2 separate regions of the Homo sapiens genome follow, and region 1 is linked to region 2. Evidence: fine-mapped expression QTL. A gene starts in region 2. The other region holds a variant in brackets. All regions are shown on one strand. Distances are from middle to middle.

Region 1 (5,372 bases), 58 kb before region 2:
TGAGCTTGGTACCAAGTCCAGGTATAACATTCCTATTGGAAGCCATACTTATATTTTCTCGTAAAGTGCTTTTGAATTAATAAAGTATTAGAAAAAAAAATTCAGATTGCTGAAATTTTGGGGAGATTAATTTGAGCAATAATAAAATTCTGGTCTCCTATACAGCCAGTTCTGCATGAATTAAACTCCTTCTGTATTCTAATTCCCCTGTCTTTTCTTTTTTTTTTTTTTTTTTGAGACGGGGTGAAAGCAAGTTTATTAAGAAAGTAAAGGAATTAAGTAAATTATTAAGAAAGTAAAGTAAAGGGAGTCTCGCTCTGTCACCCAGGCTGGAGTGTAGAGGTGAGATCTTGGCTCACTGCAAGCTCTGCCTCCTGAGTTCAAGCAATTCTCTGCCTCAGCCTTCTGAGTAGCTGGGATTACAGGAGCCTGCCACCACGCCTGGCTAATTTTTTGTATTTTTTGTAGAGACGGGGTTTCAGCATGTTGGCCAGGCTGGTCTCGAACTCCTGACCTTGTGATTTACCAACCTCAGCCTCCCAAAGTGCTGGGATTACAGGCATGAGCCACCACGCCTGGCCACAGTTCCCCTGTCTTGATGCATCAGCTTTGTCTAGGCAGCAGGCAAGGAAAACCTGTTGAGTCGTTACACTGCCACAGCCCCCAAATGAAACAGTTATATATGCTTGAGTTTTCCCTCCTCCCCTGGGCACCCTCTGAGTTATGAAGGTTCCTCCTGAAACCAGGGCCACATAAAGTAAGGGAGGAGACCATCCCTCATATTGTCTTATGCCCAATTTCTGCCTCCAAAGAAAGAAGAAGTAAAAACTAGAAGAAGTAAAAGGCAGAAATGAAATCCACAGGCAGACAGCCTGGCACCGTGCCCTGGGCCTGGTTAAAGATTGACCCCTGACCTAACCAGTTATGTTATCTATAGATTGCAGACATTGTATGGAAAAGCATTGTGAAAATCCCTGTCCTGTTCTGTTCCGTTCTGATTACCAGTGCATGCAGCCCCCAGTCACGTACCCCCACCTGCTCAATCGATCACGACCCTCTCATGTGGACCCCCTTAGAGTTGTGAGCCCTTAAAAGGGACAGGAATTGCTCACTCGGGAGCTTGGTTTTTTGGATATGTGTCTTGCCGATCTCCTGGCCGAATAAAGCCCTTCCTTCTTTAACTCAGTGTCTGAGGGGTTTTGTCTACAGCTTGTCCTGCTACAAAAGGAGCACATTATTTCAGTCAGCACTGTGCTGATCTGTGTTGACTCCCAGGATGGGAACAGGACAGTATTTCCCAAACTTTAATCATTTCAGAAGCTGCCTTATGACTTTTGCCATTTCCACTTATTATCTGTACTATTCAATCCCTTTTCTTCAGGTTTTTAAAGATTAAATTTTTTTTTCATTTTTTTTTTTTTTGAGACGGAGTCTTGCTCTGTCGCCCAGACTAGAGTGCAGTGGTGCGATCTTGGCTCACTGCAAACTCTGCCTCCTGGGTTCAAGCGATTCTCCTGCCTCAGCCTGCCACTGCACCCAGTTAATTTTTGTATTTTTAGTAGAGATGGGGTTTCACCATCTTGGCCAGGCTGGTCTTGAACTCCTGACCTCGTGATCCACCCGCCTTGGCCTCCCAAAGTGTTGGGATTACAGGCGTGAGCCACCGTGCCTGGCCTTAAATCTGTTTTAAAAAGAAATCTGGGAATTCACTATCACTCGACTTAAATAGAAGGCAACTGTAAAAACATATGCAATAAAATGATTAAGTTCTGACTAGATACAGTTTTAAAAGAAATTAGCAAAGTGTTTGGAGCTAGGATTCAAACCCAGGATTGAGCCAGAGACAAGGTCTTAACAACGGTGATTCATGTACCGCCTAACCGTGCCATTTAGGAAACCACTGGGGAGGAATGTAGTAGAATGGAACTTGCTGAGAATGAGAGCCAGTGAGGAATGGTGGAGGGTGGGGACTGAAATTTAATGGGAAGCCTTGGAATAGGGTTGCCAGATATATTACAGGACACTCAGTTAAATTTGGATAAAAGTATGTCACAACTAAAAAGGTACTTGCTTGTTTGAAATTCAAACTTAACGGGAGATCCTGCATTCTTATTAACTAAACCTGGCAATCCTAAAAACTTAACGGGAGGTCCTGCATTCTTATTAACTACACCTGGCAATCCCACCTAGGAATCAAGGGCATGATTCCAGCAGGAAATTTATCCTCAGGGAGAGGCAGGCAGTAGTTGCGTCTGTGAGGCCTGTGGTAAGACTAACCCCTGTCACTAGGCAGCAGTAGAGAACCGAGCAGAGCAGGGGGAGGGGCTGATAGTGGGGAGAGAAGAGCGGACGGGTGTGGGACTTTGGGGCCGCTCTAGGTCCTCATGCAGAATCTCAAATCAAATTAGCAAAAGACAGGAACAGGCAGCTCACAGACAAACAGCTTATACATGGCTAATAAACAAGAAAAGACGGGCTGGGCGCAGTGGCTCACGCCTGTAATCCCAGCA[C/T]GTTGGGAGGCTCCGGCAGGCGGATCACCTGAGGTCAGGAGTTCGAGACCAGCGTGGCCAACACGGTGAAACCCCATCTCTACTAAAAATACAAAAAATTAGCTGGGCGTGGTGGTGGGCACATGTAATCCCAGCTACTCAAGAGCCTGAGGCAGGGGAATCACTTGAACCCGGGACGCGGAGGTTTCAGTGGGCCAAGATCGTGCCATTGCTCTCCAGCCTGGAGGACAAAAGTGAAACTCTGCCTCAGAAAAAAAGAAACAAAGAAAAAAAAGAAAAAGAAAAAAATGCATAGTCCTACTCATAATTGAATTAGTCAACCTAAAATGAGTTCTTTTCCATCTCTCAGATTGGCAAAAATTTAAATATGAAAAAGATTACTAATACTGTGTTGTGGAAGTGTGAGAAAATACTATGTAGAGCAGAGACTGGTCACAGAAATTCAGGGACTGGAGTTTTTAAGGTTAATTTGGTGGGTAGAGTCTCAGGAAGTGGGGAATGCTAATTGGTCAGGTTGGAGATGAAATCATAGGGAGCTGAAGCTGTCCTCTTGCGCTGAGTCAGTTCCTGGGTGGGGGCCACAAGACCAGATGAGCCAGTTTATTGATCTGGGTGGTGTCAGCTGATCCATCGAGTACAGGATCTGCAAACTATCTCAAGCACTGATCTTAGGTTTTACTGTAACCTAAGATGTTATCCCCGGGAGCAATTTGGGGAGGTTTAGAATATTGCAGTCTCCAGCTGCATCTCTCAGACTGGCAAAAATTAAAATATCAAAAAAGATTACTAGTACTCTGTTGTGAAAGTGTGAGAAAATACTATGTGAGTAGAGACTGGTGCATCCTCTTTGGATTAATATCAAAAGAAGAGATGCACATAGCCTTTAATCAATGACGTAACTCCCAGGGATTTATCAGACAGATTTACTCTCCCTTAGATGTGGAGACATAAGAGGTTGTAAGTGCAACCTGGAGCTGGGTTGCTAGTCCATAAAGCACCTTGGATATCAATGTCGACTCCGCCAGCTGTGATGTCACTTGACCAATGGGAGGAGAGAGGGGAAGCGCTGGCTTAGGGAGCTGAATGTTGTCCACTCCCTCTCCCTGCCCTCTACAGCTTTTTCCCCCCAGCTGTGGCTGCTCTGGGAAGCAGAAGTAAATATTGATTTTTAGAACCATCTAGACCTGATGTCAAATCTGGTTCTGTCACTTACTTGCTGTGTGACCTTGTCCTAGCAAGTTCACCTCTCATTTTATTTTATTTTATTTTATTTTGATATGGAGTCTCGCTCTGTCGCCCAGGCTGGGTGCAGTGGCGCAATCTCCGCTCACTGCAAGCTCCGCCTCCCGGGTTCACGCCATTCTCCTGCCTCAGCCTCCCAAGTAGCTGGGACTACAGGCGCCTGCCACCACGCCCGGCTAATTTTTTGTATTTTTTGTAGAGACGGGGTTTTGCCATGTTGTCCAGGCTGGTCTCAAACTCCTAACCTCAGGTGATCCACCCACCTCGGCCTCCCAAAGTTCTGGGGTAACAGGCGTGAGCCATCACATCTGGCCTCACCTCTCCTTTTCATTCATTTGATGATACATGTATTCAAAAATATTTATTGAGAATTTACTACTAGGCACTGCAATTTTGTGGTGAACAAGACAAAGTCTCTTTATCTCTTAGAACTTTCAGGCATGCAGGGTTGTTGGGGAGACACAATAAACAAGAAAACTAATAAATGGTGTAATATGGAAATGGTAGTAGATACTAAAAAGACAATAAGATAAGATGGTTGGGTATGGTGGCTCACGCCTGTAACCCCAACCAAGGCAGGAGGATCTCTTGAGCCCAGGAGTTTGAGACCAGCCTGGGAAACATAGTGAGACCTTGTCTCTACTATAAACAAAAAATTAGCTGGTGTGGTGGTGTGCACCTGTGGTCCCAGCTACTTGGGAGGCTGAGGCAGGAGGTATCACCTCAGCCCGAGAGGTGGAAGCTGCAGTGAGCCGTGATGGTGTCACTGCATTCCTGCCTGGGCAACAGAGTGAGACCCTGTCTCAAAACAAAAAACAAACAAAAACAATAAAATAAGATAAAATGATACAGTGACCAGGGATGTTGCTTATATGTAATAGGAGATGACAATTCTGTTTCACAGGGTTGACATCAAAATTACATAAGATACTACATATGAAGCACTTAGCATTGTGCCCGAGACAGGGTATTAATTATGGTAACAATTACTGAATGTTTGTAATGTGCTAGACACTGTTCCAAGTACTATGGGTAGACTAACTCATGTAATGACCTTGTTTTCCAGATAAGGAAACTGAAGCACAGGTAGGCTGAATTACTTGCCTAAAGTCAGGGAATTAGCAGAGGATAGAACTGTGACATTCTGGCCTCAGAGCCTACAGTTTTAACTGTTTTATTAAATATTAGTGTCTGTCTGTCTTTCATATCTTGATTAAAGGGGGCTGGAGGGCCCCGAGGAGGGCATGCTCAAATCTGTAGGAGGTGTGGGGGTTGGAGGCCAGGTGGAACCTAAGGCAGCTTGTGGAGCAAATGCAAGGGCACTGGAAGGTGAGTCACCATGTAACCTGGTGATGCTACTATATGACAAGAAAGTGAGAATTGAGGATAATGGAGTTATGAGATAATGGAATAAAGAAGGTGTCTTACTTGGCTCAGGCTCTGGCTGCGATAACAAAATATAGTTGACCCTTGAACAACATGAGTTTAAACTGTGCAGGTCCACTTATATATGGGATTTTTCCCCCATAAATACACTGAAAAATTTTTTTGAGATTTGCGACTATTTAAACATACAGATCAGCCAGGCATGGTGGCTCATGCCTGTAATGCCAGCACTTT
Region 2 (5,372 bases):
TCTTTTCTAAGCTGTTTTCCTGGAGATCTGATCTGTGTTGAACATCCAGCTGGCTGAAGCTTTAACAAAGCCAAGATTAGAAGCACACGTTGGGTGGGGGTTGCTGTTGGTATTGTGGGCTCCAGAGGGGCCCATTAGTGGCAAAACTGGGGCCACCCAAGGGATGGGTGTGGAGGAAGAATAGCTGCCCTTCCCGATCCCTTCCCTGCCCCCATTCCACTTGCCTCCCACGATCTTGGTTGTCTGGGAGAAGGTCTGCACGTGGGTGGTGGAGCTGGAGAACTCCATGGACACGTGCTCCTGCAGCATCTGCCGGCTGTGAATGGTTGTCATGGTGACAGCAGGCGTGGGCACTCACCTGTGAGACTGGGGAAGAGGATGAGGCCATGAAGGACAAGACAGGGAGTAGGAGGGAGATTCAGAGATGTTATGTGTGTGTTCAGACATAAGAGGAGATGGAAGCACACAGGAGAGGGCCAGGAGAGCAGTCGAGCTCTCTTTTCTTCATTTCCTAGCTTCCTTTTCCTGGTTAGTTACCAGACCCAATAGGCCTGTCCTCTCACTGAGTAACTCCAAACTATTCCAGGGTCTCAGAGGGAGAGGTTATAGGGCTTAGACTTACCCAGCCAACCAAGTAAGGCCTGGAGGGAGTTGAGGATACCTATTGATAGCTACATGGCACTAAGGAGGCAGTGCTGGATGTTTCATCAGGAGGGAATGCAGTCAGACCTAAGAAAGAACTTCCTGACTAAGCCATACTGGAGTGGGCTTTAGAAGGAAGCTGTGTCTCTTATTCCTGGGCCCTGGGGACCCCGGCACTGGTGGAATGCTAAAACAGATGACAAAACATCACTACAATTCTGCTTGTGTTTGCGACATGGTAAAGGCAAAGGTTTAGTTTTTCTTACATTTTTCTTTGAACTGGTAATTCAATCACATAGTTAAAGAATAAAACAATATAAAAATCCATATGGACAGGCTCCCTCCCACTCCTGCGTCTATCTTACAACCTTCCCCATTGCAACAGGTAGCCAGTCTCTAGGCTCCTTCTAGACCTCCATCATGCAAATAGGAAAACTCATGTGTTCTTATCATCTTCCTTTTTTTTTTTTAATTAAAAAAGCACATAAGGTAGCCCATTATACACACTATTCTGACCCTTTCTTTTTTCATTTAATGTGTCTTGGAGATTTTTTCCATACCAGATGATAGCGTTTCCTCATTCCTGTTCAGAGCACCATGTTTTCTCAATGTTTTATTTAACCAGCATTGCGGTTTTTTTTGGGTGATCTCGGCTCATTGCAACCTCCTCCTCTCGAATTCAAGCCATTCTCCTGCCTCAGCCTCCCCAGCAGCTGGGTTTACAGGCACGTGCCACCATGCCCAGCTAATTTTTGTGTTTTCAGTAGAGACAGGGTTTCATCTTGTTGGCCAGGCTGGTCTCAAACTCCTAGCCTCGATTGATCCGCCTGCCTTGGCCTCCCAAAGTGCTGGGATTATAGGTGTGAGCCACTGCATGTGGCCAGCATTGCAGTTTTTTTGTTTTTGTTTTTTTGAGACAGAGTCTTGCTCTGTTGCCCAGGCTGGAGTGCAGTGGCACGATCTTGGCCCACGACAACCTCTGCCTCCCAGGTTCAAGCAATTCTCCTGCCTCAGGCTCCCGAGTAGCTGGGACTACAGGCACCCGCCATCACACCCGGCTAATTTTTTGTATTTTTAGTACAGATGGCGTTTCACTATGTTGGCCAGGCTAGTCTCGAATACCTGACCTCGTGATCCGCCCACCTCAGCCTCCCAAAGTGCTAGGATTACAGGCGTGAGCCACCGCGCCTGGCCCAGCATTGCAGTTTTTAAAGTCCTATTTCGTATATGAGGAAACTGATGTCTGAAAGAAATGACCTGTCCAAGGTCACTCAGACTAGACTCCTAGCTTTTGACTCCAGTCCAGTGGCGTCCCAGAGGGCTCCAAAGCCTTCTTTAACCCAGGTAGTTAGGGGTTAAACTCTATTCCCTCTCTCCACCCCCTAATATATCTCTGCCTGGGCTGCTTCTACCTTTGGGTTCTGAGACTACTCCCCTGTTCCTATTCCTGCCCTCTACCCTATAGTCCCCTCTGGGCTCAGAAGGTGGTCAGCTTTGTCCCCTTCCTGAGGGAGGAGGGGAGCCTTACCTTCAGCACTGACCAGTCCCTCCCAACACTCGAATGCTGTGTCCACGGCTTTGGAGGCTCAGCTAGTGCCTGGACTGTAGGGTGGCCCGTCTCCTTCTTCCTTTGCCCCAACAGTGAGGCTACCAGTGTCATCTGTTCCTTAAATGTCTGGCCCCCTGGGGGCGATTCCTTAGTCAGGCTCTGCAGCTGTCTCAGCTAGATGGCACACTGCTTGGTTGTGGGGGGAGGGGGAGGGCGGTGGAGAAGGGAGGCGGGAAGCAAAGCTGGATCCAGGCTGGGGGAAACACTGAAGGCCAGGCGGGAAGGAGGCTGAGGGTGGCAGTCCAGGGGTACTTTTTTTGTTCCCTTGTGGTACAGGTTTTGGCTCTCACTGCTGCTGGGTAGGACCTCTCTGAGCTGAGGGGCTCAGGGTAGTGTGTGTGCACAGGCACACACTCAGGTACAGGTGCATGCATAGTCCAGCAGGGCTCAGGGAGCAAAGCAACAGGTCTGTATTTTCCAGGGACTGGGACACGGTGAACTGGGGAGGGCCTCTGGGATCTGCTGCGTTGCTACACAAATCCAGGGGTTCCCATTCATGTTGCACTCCTATGTGTGGTTCATACACAGCCTGAGTATCTTTACAAGGCCACCCTGGGGAAGAACAGGGAAATGTTAGGTCTCCTTCCTCTTCCCACTTCAACAGCCCAATCTCCCTAATCTGGGTAGAAGAGTAGGAGGGCCCATCCTCCGGGGGTTGTGGGGAGGTCTCTGCTTGAGGGTGACTGGAGAGTATGGCCACCTCTTCTCAAGGACTTCCATCTGGGCTGCTTCAGCCACCTGTTGTTTTCTTTTCTTTTCTTTTTTTTGAGATGGAGTCTCTGTCACCCAGACTGGATGCAGTGGCACGATCTTGGCTCACTGCAACCTCTGCCTCCCAGGTTCAAGCGATTCTCCTGCCTCAGCCTCCTGAGTATCTGGGATTACAGGCGTGCACCGCTACGCCCGGCTAATTTTTGTATTTTTAGTAGAGATGGGGTTTCACCATGTTGGTCAGGCTGGTCTCGAACTCCTGACCTCATGATCTGCCACCCCTCGGCCTCCCAATGTGCTGGGATTACAGGCGTGAGCCACCGTGTCCAGCCCACCCTGTTGTTTTCTCATCATCTGTAGCACACCCCGCATGCCTGGACCCTGGATCCCACCCAAGGTTCTGGCACCTTGTAAGGACTTGTTGGTCAGCACCCTTGCCCTGGACCCCTCCTTCTGCCCTGGGGTGACCCCCACCTGCCAGCAGTGGCATCATGGCTACTTTTGCTCCATCCCAGGGGGGCAGGGGACAAGAATAGAGCAGGAGTGTCCAGGATGGCTCAGGATCTCAGCCCACATGCAGATTCCCTGGGCCCCTTGGGAGGAGCTACTCTGAGCCCAGGCCTTACAAGGGAAATTACTGGGCTGCAGCTGCTGTTGGGATCTGTGGAGCTAACATGGGATAAGAGTTTGGCCAACAGGGAGGGGCCTGGGTGTGACCTGAATGTCTCCTTACCCTAGCCTTGGCTTCTCTGGCACATCTGTTGGAAATGGTGACCTGCCAGCCACTGTGCCTTCCCTGGAAGCCTTCCACACCTGTCCTTGAGGCTCCCCATGGCCCAGAGCATGTGTCAGGGCCAGGGCTGAGGCTGTGTGAGAATCCTGCAGAATGTTCCCAGTTTGGCTTTACAAATTTGGACTCGCTCCATACTCCCAGTCTCCACAAGGGGCTCCAGTGAGCAGAAGGGCCAAGCTCACTGTGCTCATGCTGGGGAGGGGCACAAAGACCCAAGTACAGGAAGGAAGGCAGTGGAGGGGAGAGGCAAATCACACAGACCCAGGAGGTTAGTTTTGCTCAAAATGCTCCGTTTATTGCTCTATTCAATGACCACGAGCGAATTATAAAAAGACACCAAATGTCTCTGTCTGCCGTGGGATAAATATTTAAAGTCAGCAATAAAAACACGTGGCTCCAAGATAATACATGTTGCCAAAGAGTCATGCATGCCCTCCTGATGGGCTCTCAACACACGCATGGACATGGGAACACACGCAGAGCAACACGCAGTGAGACTTCTGGGAAGGCTTTCCCACAGTGACACAGAAAAATGTCTCACGTAGATCTGGGCTGAGTCCCCACCCAAACCTTGAGCTCCCCTCCCCTCCCCAACAGGGCCTAGATCCTCTGGGTTCTCCATGCCCCATCTGCCCCCTACCTTGCCAGTGCCTCACAGGCTGGGCACCCTCCTGAGAGCATCTGACACCCAGAGGCCACCCTGGCTGTGATGCCCACTCCAACCTAGAGAACTCTCCCTCAGCTGAAAGCTCTCTGGTGACCTTCTGGAGCTCCCCATGCCTAACTCCCCGTCATCTGCCTTTTGGGAGAAGTGCGGGTGAGGCCGAGGCAGGCAAGTCCGGTTGCTTAGGGGCTGGAGCTCATTACCCCTTCCTGGCTGAGGAGACACAGTGTCCGGTACAGAGGGCAGAGATGGATGGACAGACAGAACACATTGCAGCAGGACACAAAGTGTAGCACGGAAACATTCTGGATCAGGTATTGATGGAACCATCGTTAAAAACTGGAGCCCGGGGTCTGCGTGGTGTGGGTCAGGCCCCGGGGCCCCAGGCCTGGCCTGGCATGTCCCTTCCCGACCCTGCCCCCCACTCCCCAATATGTACAGTAGGAAGAGCAATGCTGGAGGGTAGGGGTCAGGCCAGGCTGACAGAGGACAGAGGGAGCTGACTGAAGGGGAGGAAGCGGGGAGCAGGCCCAGGACCCGAGGCAGGGCCCTGGGTGAGGGCCGAGACTCAGGCTGGGCAGTGCCCAGAGAACCTTGTAGGAGAAGCGCAGTCATTCTGGGGACTGGTGGGACAGCTGCTTTTCGTAGAGGCTCATGACGTGGTGCACAAACTGGTACTGCTCGCATGTCTGGATCATGCCGCCCCTGCCCGGCAGAGATGCACAGTGGGGGCAGGGTCGTGGAGGGATGGGCTGTGGGAGGTGCCCCAAAAGCCATGGAGTAGCAATCACTTGCCAGGCCTTGCCCCTGTGCGTCTTGGAGAGACCAACCCTTGCCAACCATTACCCTCTGCCCCTTCCTATCAGGGACACAGATGACATGTCCTACCACTTTCGGCCTCTGTCCTTTTATCCACCAGCTCTGCTTTTCTTCCCTCTTCATCTGGCCCCCCA

Evidence for each region. PIP is the estimated chance that this variant, and not a neighbour inherited with it, causes the effect.
Region 1: its variant is the best candidate, but not a certain one, in a credible set for the expression of IGSF22 in sun-exposed skin (GTEx, PIP 0.63).

The regions. Positions count from the first base shown.
Region 1 is chr11:18,666,389-18,671,760 of GRCh38, forward strand. It overlaps the pseudogene SRSF3P1. Among named protein-coding and RNA genes, the nearest start is that of TMEM86A, 30 kb to the right of the region's middle. RefSeq lists a silencer at 640-840 and an enhancer at 2,068-2,569. The variant C/T (reference allele first, on the strand shown) is at 2,511.
Region 2 is chr11:18,723,904-18,729,275 of GRCh38, forward strand. IGSF22 (immunoglobulin superfamily member 22) reads right to left here and starts at 2,285. Exons shown (of 23, transcript NM_173588.4): 1 at 2,171-2,285; 2 at 225-366. The coding sequence starts at 333. It overlaps PTPN5 (protein tyrosine phosphatase non-receptor type 5), which reads right to left. Exons shown (of 15, transcript NM_006906.2): 15 at 4,025-5,124. The coding sequence ends at 5,031. The region is part of intron 2 of IGSF22-AS1 (IGSF22 antisense RNA 1); the gene reads left to right.